Linked DNA regions of Homo sapiens: region 2 is linked to region 1. The links come from fine-mapping of genetic effects on gene expression. A gene starts in region 1. The other region holds a variant in brackets. All regions are shown on one strand. Distances are between the middles of the regions.

Region 1 (2,890 bases):
AGTGTCTTCCTAAAAATTTCCCTGCTCTAGTCTGTAATTTAGCTGAGACCCCTTACCAGATTCTTTAAAAATTAGCCCACGATAACGGGTGTCTCTGAATCAATATTTTAATATCTGTTCTGAAACTTTTAGGTGCAAGGAAATTACAGGGCTATCAACTCTATCTCTTTCCAAGACCAGAAAGTCGGCAGATGGAGAACGGTTTCTAGATGGGGAGGGAATCTGCCTTTGGAACTTTTAGCGACCTGGTATGGTTCAACATTCCATCACTATGCAAAAATAAATAAATAAATTGCAGACCAACGTACAAAGGAAAGCAGCAAAGTTACTCTTCGCGGGGACGGTTGTGAACAAGGTAACATCTTAGAGACAGACCCCGGGGTCTGTAGCTTTGCATTAAAGCCATAGTCTCTAACTGGAGGCAGCAAAATGTTCTTCCGCCCCACTGGGGTGAACCTGGAATGTGGAAGGACGGGAAATAATACAAAGTCACACGCTTTAGGTTCTACAACTCCTGACTGGCTGAATTGGCCCGTCGATTTACCTTGAGGCAGTTTTGGCGGGGTGGGGGCTGGGATGGGGGAGGCGGTTGTAGTTTTCAAGGTGAATTTACACACACACACACACACACACACACACACACACACGTCTGTGCTAGAGCTGGAGACCAGGCTAGCACGTCTCTCAACAGGATAAGAAATTGGCTGATTTTGCTGTCGCTCAGCTGGATCCAAATAAACCAAACATCGGAGCTCTCATTTGAGGGGGAATGTGGTTTTATGGAGTTGTCAAAGCTGAAATGATCTTCTGGGAAAAGAGAAGGGGCTCACCATGGGGCGATAAGAGGGCAGTAGCCAGGGTTCGGGCCAGAATCCGAGACTGCTGCGGCCGCGGGGGAACGCAGCCAGGAAGGGTCTATGTGGCCAATGCGGTCCCCATTCCGATCTCCAAAATCCCCCGCGCCCGTGCGCGTGGACTTACCACCATGAAGAGTTGACCTCGGGGGTGAGCCAGGTCAAGAGCAGAGGGAGCCAGAGCCAGATTCCACCGAGAGGGGCGTTCATATTAACCCCCTTGCGTCTGCATCAGGTCAGACTCCGTGTGCGGGCGCCATGCGTGCCCAGAGCAGAAGCGCTCAGCTCCGGGAGCGCCTCGTCACGGCCGCCGGCGCCTCGCCGCGCCCCCGCCCCCCGCTCGCGTCTGCGACGAGTGGCGAGACTCGCTGATAAAGTTTCAAACGATGGGCCCAGCGAGCGATAAAGGCCAGCCCGGACCGCCTCGCCCACAGCCCAATTCCCCAGGCGCAGCGAGCGCCTGCAGCCCGAAAGCTCTGCGCGCCTCCCGCGCGCCCCGTCCGCTCTGCTCCCCTCCGGGCGCAGCCGAGGGAGGGGGTGCTGCGCCTGGCGGGGGTGGGGAGAAACGCGGGGTTTTAGACACGGGTGCATGAAATGATGGCAAGAGATGTCTGGGGATGAGGTGAGGCGGGGAAGGGGGAACATCGCTGCATGGTTACGAGCACACGCGAATACAGGAACCTTTAGGGAAGCTCCAGGCCAAAGAGCATCCGTGGGCTCTCGGAGCGTGCGTTCCGGATTGCCGAGGCCATCCGCTGGCAAACAAGTCCCTGAGCGTGCAATGTGAGGAAACGAGGAAGGGGGCCAGGGGATAAGGAGATTACTATGCATGGGATACAAGAATCCAGAGATGATTCTCAACTCATTGCTTCGCTTCTCTCCCTGAAGCTGGGATGAAGAGCTAGCACTTGTAAATTTGGAGCTGCCGCGTCTATGCAGGGCAAGGTTAGGGAGGGGCCAGGCCTCTGCGAAATGACCTGTTGGCTTTGATTCCTTGGTGCTGGGCTTAAATACAGAGCCCATAGGGAGGGGAACTTGGAGGGTCCATGACCCTCGGGACCTAACCCAGCAGTATCTGCCAAAGCACCCAGGAAAGATGCAGTTTTTACGCACACCCAGCTCCTCTCCGGAGCTGCGGAGCGCAAAAGATCACATAGAGAGGAACCGAGGCAGCCAGGCGTTCGCCGGGGGTGTGCGCCCTTGCACCTCCTGCCGCCTGGGCGCTCAGCCTGTGCGCCTTGTGGAGGTTAAGGGACCCTCGGTCCTGGACCTGGGCCCCCGCCCAGCCAAGAGAGAGGGGCTTGGGCCCGCGGGTGGAGCATTTTGAGCAGTAGCTGGCTTGTAGCCGCGCCGTTTATCACCGGAAAGGAAGGAAGACCAGGAACTCGTGGCGGCCGTGAACTGTTCCATTGCTCTTTTCCTGGGGCGGAGGGACTCACTGCCCGCCCGAGGAGCGTGCTCTGGGGAATAGAGTATGCGCCTGTGTGTATGTGTGGGAGGCGAATTGTTCGCAGGGCGTGGGGGAGGGGGTGCCGCCCAGATCGGAAGGACGGGCTCTCCCTCTCTCCAGCCCACCCTCGGGCCTGGACTGGCCAGAGCGTCAGCCCTCGCCGGCAGCGAGCGCGGTGAGAGGCTGGACGAGGCGAAGCTCAGAGACGCCAAAAACCTGAAAGATGCTGTCATCGCCACCCCCTTCCCCCACGCTGGTCCCTGGCAGGTCCGGCCCCTCCCAGGCTGACCCAGATACATCCCCGTTTGGGTCCGGAAAGGGAGGGGAGGGAAACAAGCACCGCGCCACCCACGACTCGGGAAGAGCAGGGCTCCTCGCCAGGGCCGCTCCGTATCGCTGGGCCGCGACCCAGGGAAGTTCTGCTTGGTCTGCGTCGGTCGGGCGGGAGGTGCAGGGAGGGCGCGTGGGGCGGCAGGCAGCGGGGCGGGGGAGCGTTTCTGCTCGCCGTGTGTGCACGCCGGCCATGGGGAGGGTATGATAGGCACCAAAGAGCAACACGCCTCTCATGTACTTACATGCTTATGCT
Region 2 (2,917 bases), 970 kb after region 1:
AAGGCCAGCATTGGTCTGATACCAAAACCAGACCATGACACTACAAGAAAAGAAAATTATAGTCCAATATACCTGATGAACCTAGATGCAAAAATATTCAACAAAATGAATAGTTGAGTGGTTGCTGGTCAAGAGGTACAATGTTTTTTTTTTTAGGCACGGGCATTAAGCTTTGAGATCTATTGGAGAGCAAGGTGACTATAGTGAATAATCATATATTGTGTATTTCAAAATGGCTGAGTAAATTTCAAATATCTCCCCACAAAATATGATAAGTGAGGTGAAGGATATATTAATTAGCTTGATTTAGTCATGTCGCATTGCATACATATATCAAAACATAACATTGTACACCTTAAACATACACAATTATGATCTGCCAAATAAATAATACTAATAAAAACAATATACTCAATAGAGATTTTATCACTATCTGTTACTATATTGGCTTTTACTTCCCTGGATAATAATTTTTCTTGGATGAACACATACAGTATGTTTGGAATTCTGAGGATTTACAAAGTCAATAGCCTTATTCACAAAAATTATATCTCTAGGTAGAAAATTCACACATTATGAATGCCTCCTTGTTTTAATGTAATTTGTCTAATTTTATCATCACAATAGCTCTAAAATGGGTATTGTTTTCATACCCAAAAGAGAACAAAACCCAGACTCAGAGTAGAGAAGTGAAGGTACTTTTAGCAAGCTAGTGGCAGAGACTGGATTCAAGGTCACACATTCTAATTTTAAATACAATGCTCTTTTTATGATTTCAAAGTATTCCAAAATAAATTGGGGGAAATAAATTGCTGTGGTTGTTGCAAGCTACCCATCTTTAGAGGAACAGTGATTAAATACTTCAGGAACAAGAGTGCATCTTCTTTGATTGTGTTTGAGAGAATAAAACTATAAGGAAAAATTTTCTTGTACAGCCAAATAAATATTTTATATGAGAAATTGTTTTCAGGTTGTGCACTGTGAATCAAGGCCAAATAGGGCCAAATGAGGCTCCTGAGAACAGAATGAAAGAGAATGCAGTAAAATATGACAAGGTAAAATGCCAGACCTTCAGATGACCATGGATTGTGTCATCAGCCGGGAAGGTGAGATGTTGAGCTATTCTAGCTAATTGTATTACAAAATAAGCATCTTTTCCTAACCACGATAGTCACCCTGACACACCCGACTAGAGTCCCCCATCTTGGGGGATACTTACTATGTGGAAATGACAGATTTGCACTTTTTTTCCTCTATAAATTTGCAACAGAACCAGATCCAGATATCT[C/G]AGTGAATTCGAGGGAATATGGTTTTCTATCAAGTGAACTTTGTGACATAATCCCACAACATATCTCAGAAATGAATAAAAATCATTGCAGATGCACCTACAAGTCTCCGAGCTTATGAGAAAATAGGACTTTTGGGGCCATTGGGTGGTGTATAAATTACACACATGAAGTTCCTTGAGTTCTGTAGTTCAGGGACCTTCCTCTTACTTTCTAGGCAACAGGCGCAATCTGTGTCAAGCAGGATCCCACTTGAATCCTCTCTGCTTACATAGGTTTATGGCTCTAAGGGATCTGTCAATTCCCTTCTGGAAAGGAACTGAAAACCTGGTGAAAGCTGGTATCACTTTCAATCTTTTAAATGGCTTTTAGGTCAATGCTAATAAATTTTGAATCTGTAGTTCATAATTTTTAGTTCAACCACATAATTATTCTTATTTTGTTTGTCATGTTAAAGCCTTAGCATAAAATGCTACTCTCATCATTCTAGACCCTTAAGAAAAATCACCTGTCAGCTTGAATTAATTATAATTTCCTTTTTAAATATTATAAGAAGAATCTTGTTCTTGGGAAGTACTAAACAAGCCCCAAATCTTTTCTTCAAATATTTTTAAGATGTATGCAGAAGGGTAAAAAGCAAGCAATAGAGTTATATGTGTAAACCTATTTCTTGGCTGGGCATGGTGCCTGTAAACCCGTTGCTTTGAGCCCAGGAGTTAGAGACCAACATGGCAAGAACTTACCGCTACAAAGTGAAACAAACAAACAAAAAATTTAATTGAATGTTGTGGGCGCTCTGCCTGTGATCCCAGCTACTTAGGAGGCTGAGGTGGGAAGATCACTTGAGTCCAGGAGGTCAGCGTTGCAGTGAGTTGTGTTGTGCCACTGCCCTACAGCCTGGATGATAACAGTGAGACCCTGTCTCAAAAAATAAATAAATACATAAAAAGTAGACTTATTTTTTACTCTAATTCTATGCTACTCTATGGATAATTTTATTTGTTACAAATTATGCTATAGATAGAGGTCATGAAAAACATACAGGAAGCATGGTGAAGTGAAAAATGTGGCACAGTAGATTTAGATAATTCTAGACTCATTTCTGTTTCTTCTTGACTATGTAACCTTGAGTAAGCCCTTCAATCTGTGTCTCATCTGTAAATGGGGATAATATTATTTGCCTCCAACACATTATTGACTGACTCAGTTATACTTCCCATGTTTTCAAAAACAATATGTTGGGGACCTTTTGCACTAATATAACTCCTTGTGTTGATCACTACCAGGTAATATGATGATTTATATTATTAGTGAGAGGTATTTTAGTTAGAGTTGAAAATATACTCAATATGTCAGGGTTTTTTTGTGATCTCCACAATAGAAGTTGAATATCGTTGGTGAAGACTGGAACAGAGCTTCTCAACTTCATCCTGGAAAGAACTCTCCAGGGTATTGTGTTCTGTTCTGGAAAACTCACCTCAGGAGGTTCTTTAATTAAATTGAAGAGTGCATATGGCTAGGCATTGAGTGTGTTTTTGGGCCACTGTCTGGGGACAGCCATGATAGAATTGAAGATATTTTACTTGGAGAATGAATGAATTGGGGACTTGCTATCTGTGATTATTTGCAAG

Direction of the effects. Positions count from the first base shown, and alleles are read on the strand shown. Sizes are in standard deviations (SD) of each study's normalised expression.
In carriers of allele G in region 2, the expression in lung of the gene that starts at base 1,133 in region 1 tends to be higher than with C alone (moderate effect, 0.58 SD a copy in GTEx).

Evidence for each region.
Region 2: its variant is fine-mapped to the expression of WNT2 in lung (GTEx, PIP 0.96).

Annotation. Positions count from the first base shown.
Region 1 is chr7:117,321,926-117,324,815 of GRCh38, forward strand. WNT2 (Wnt family member 2) reads right to left here and starts at 1,133. Exons shown (of 5, transcript NM_003391.3): 1 at 982-1,133. The coding sequence starts at 1,064. LOC105375467 (a long non-coding RNA gene) reads left to right here. Exons shown (of 2, transcript XR_007060645.1): 2 at 133-307. RefSeq lists an enhancer at 427-1,001 and a silencer at 2,404-2,861.
Region 2 is chr7:118,292,496-118,295,412 of GRCh38, forward strand. The region is part of intron 1 of LOC102724495 (a long non-coding RNA gene); the gene reads left to right. Among named protein-coding and RNA genes, the nearest start is that of ANKRD7, 69 kb to the left of the region's middle. The variant C/G (reference allele first, on the strand shown) is at 1,289.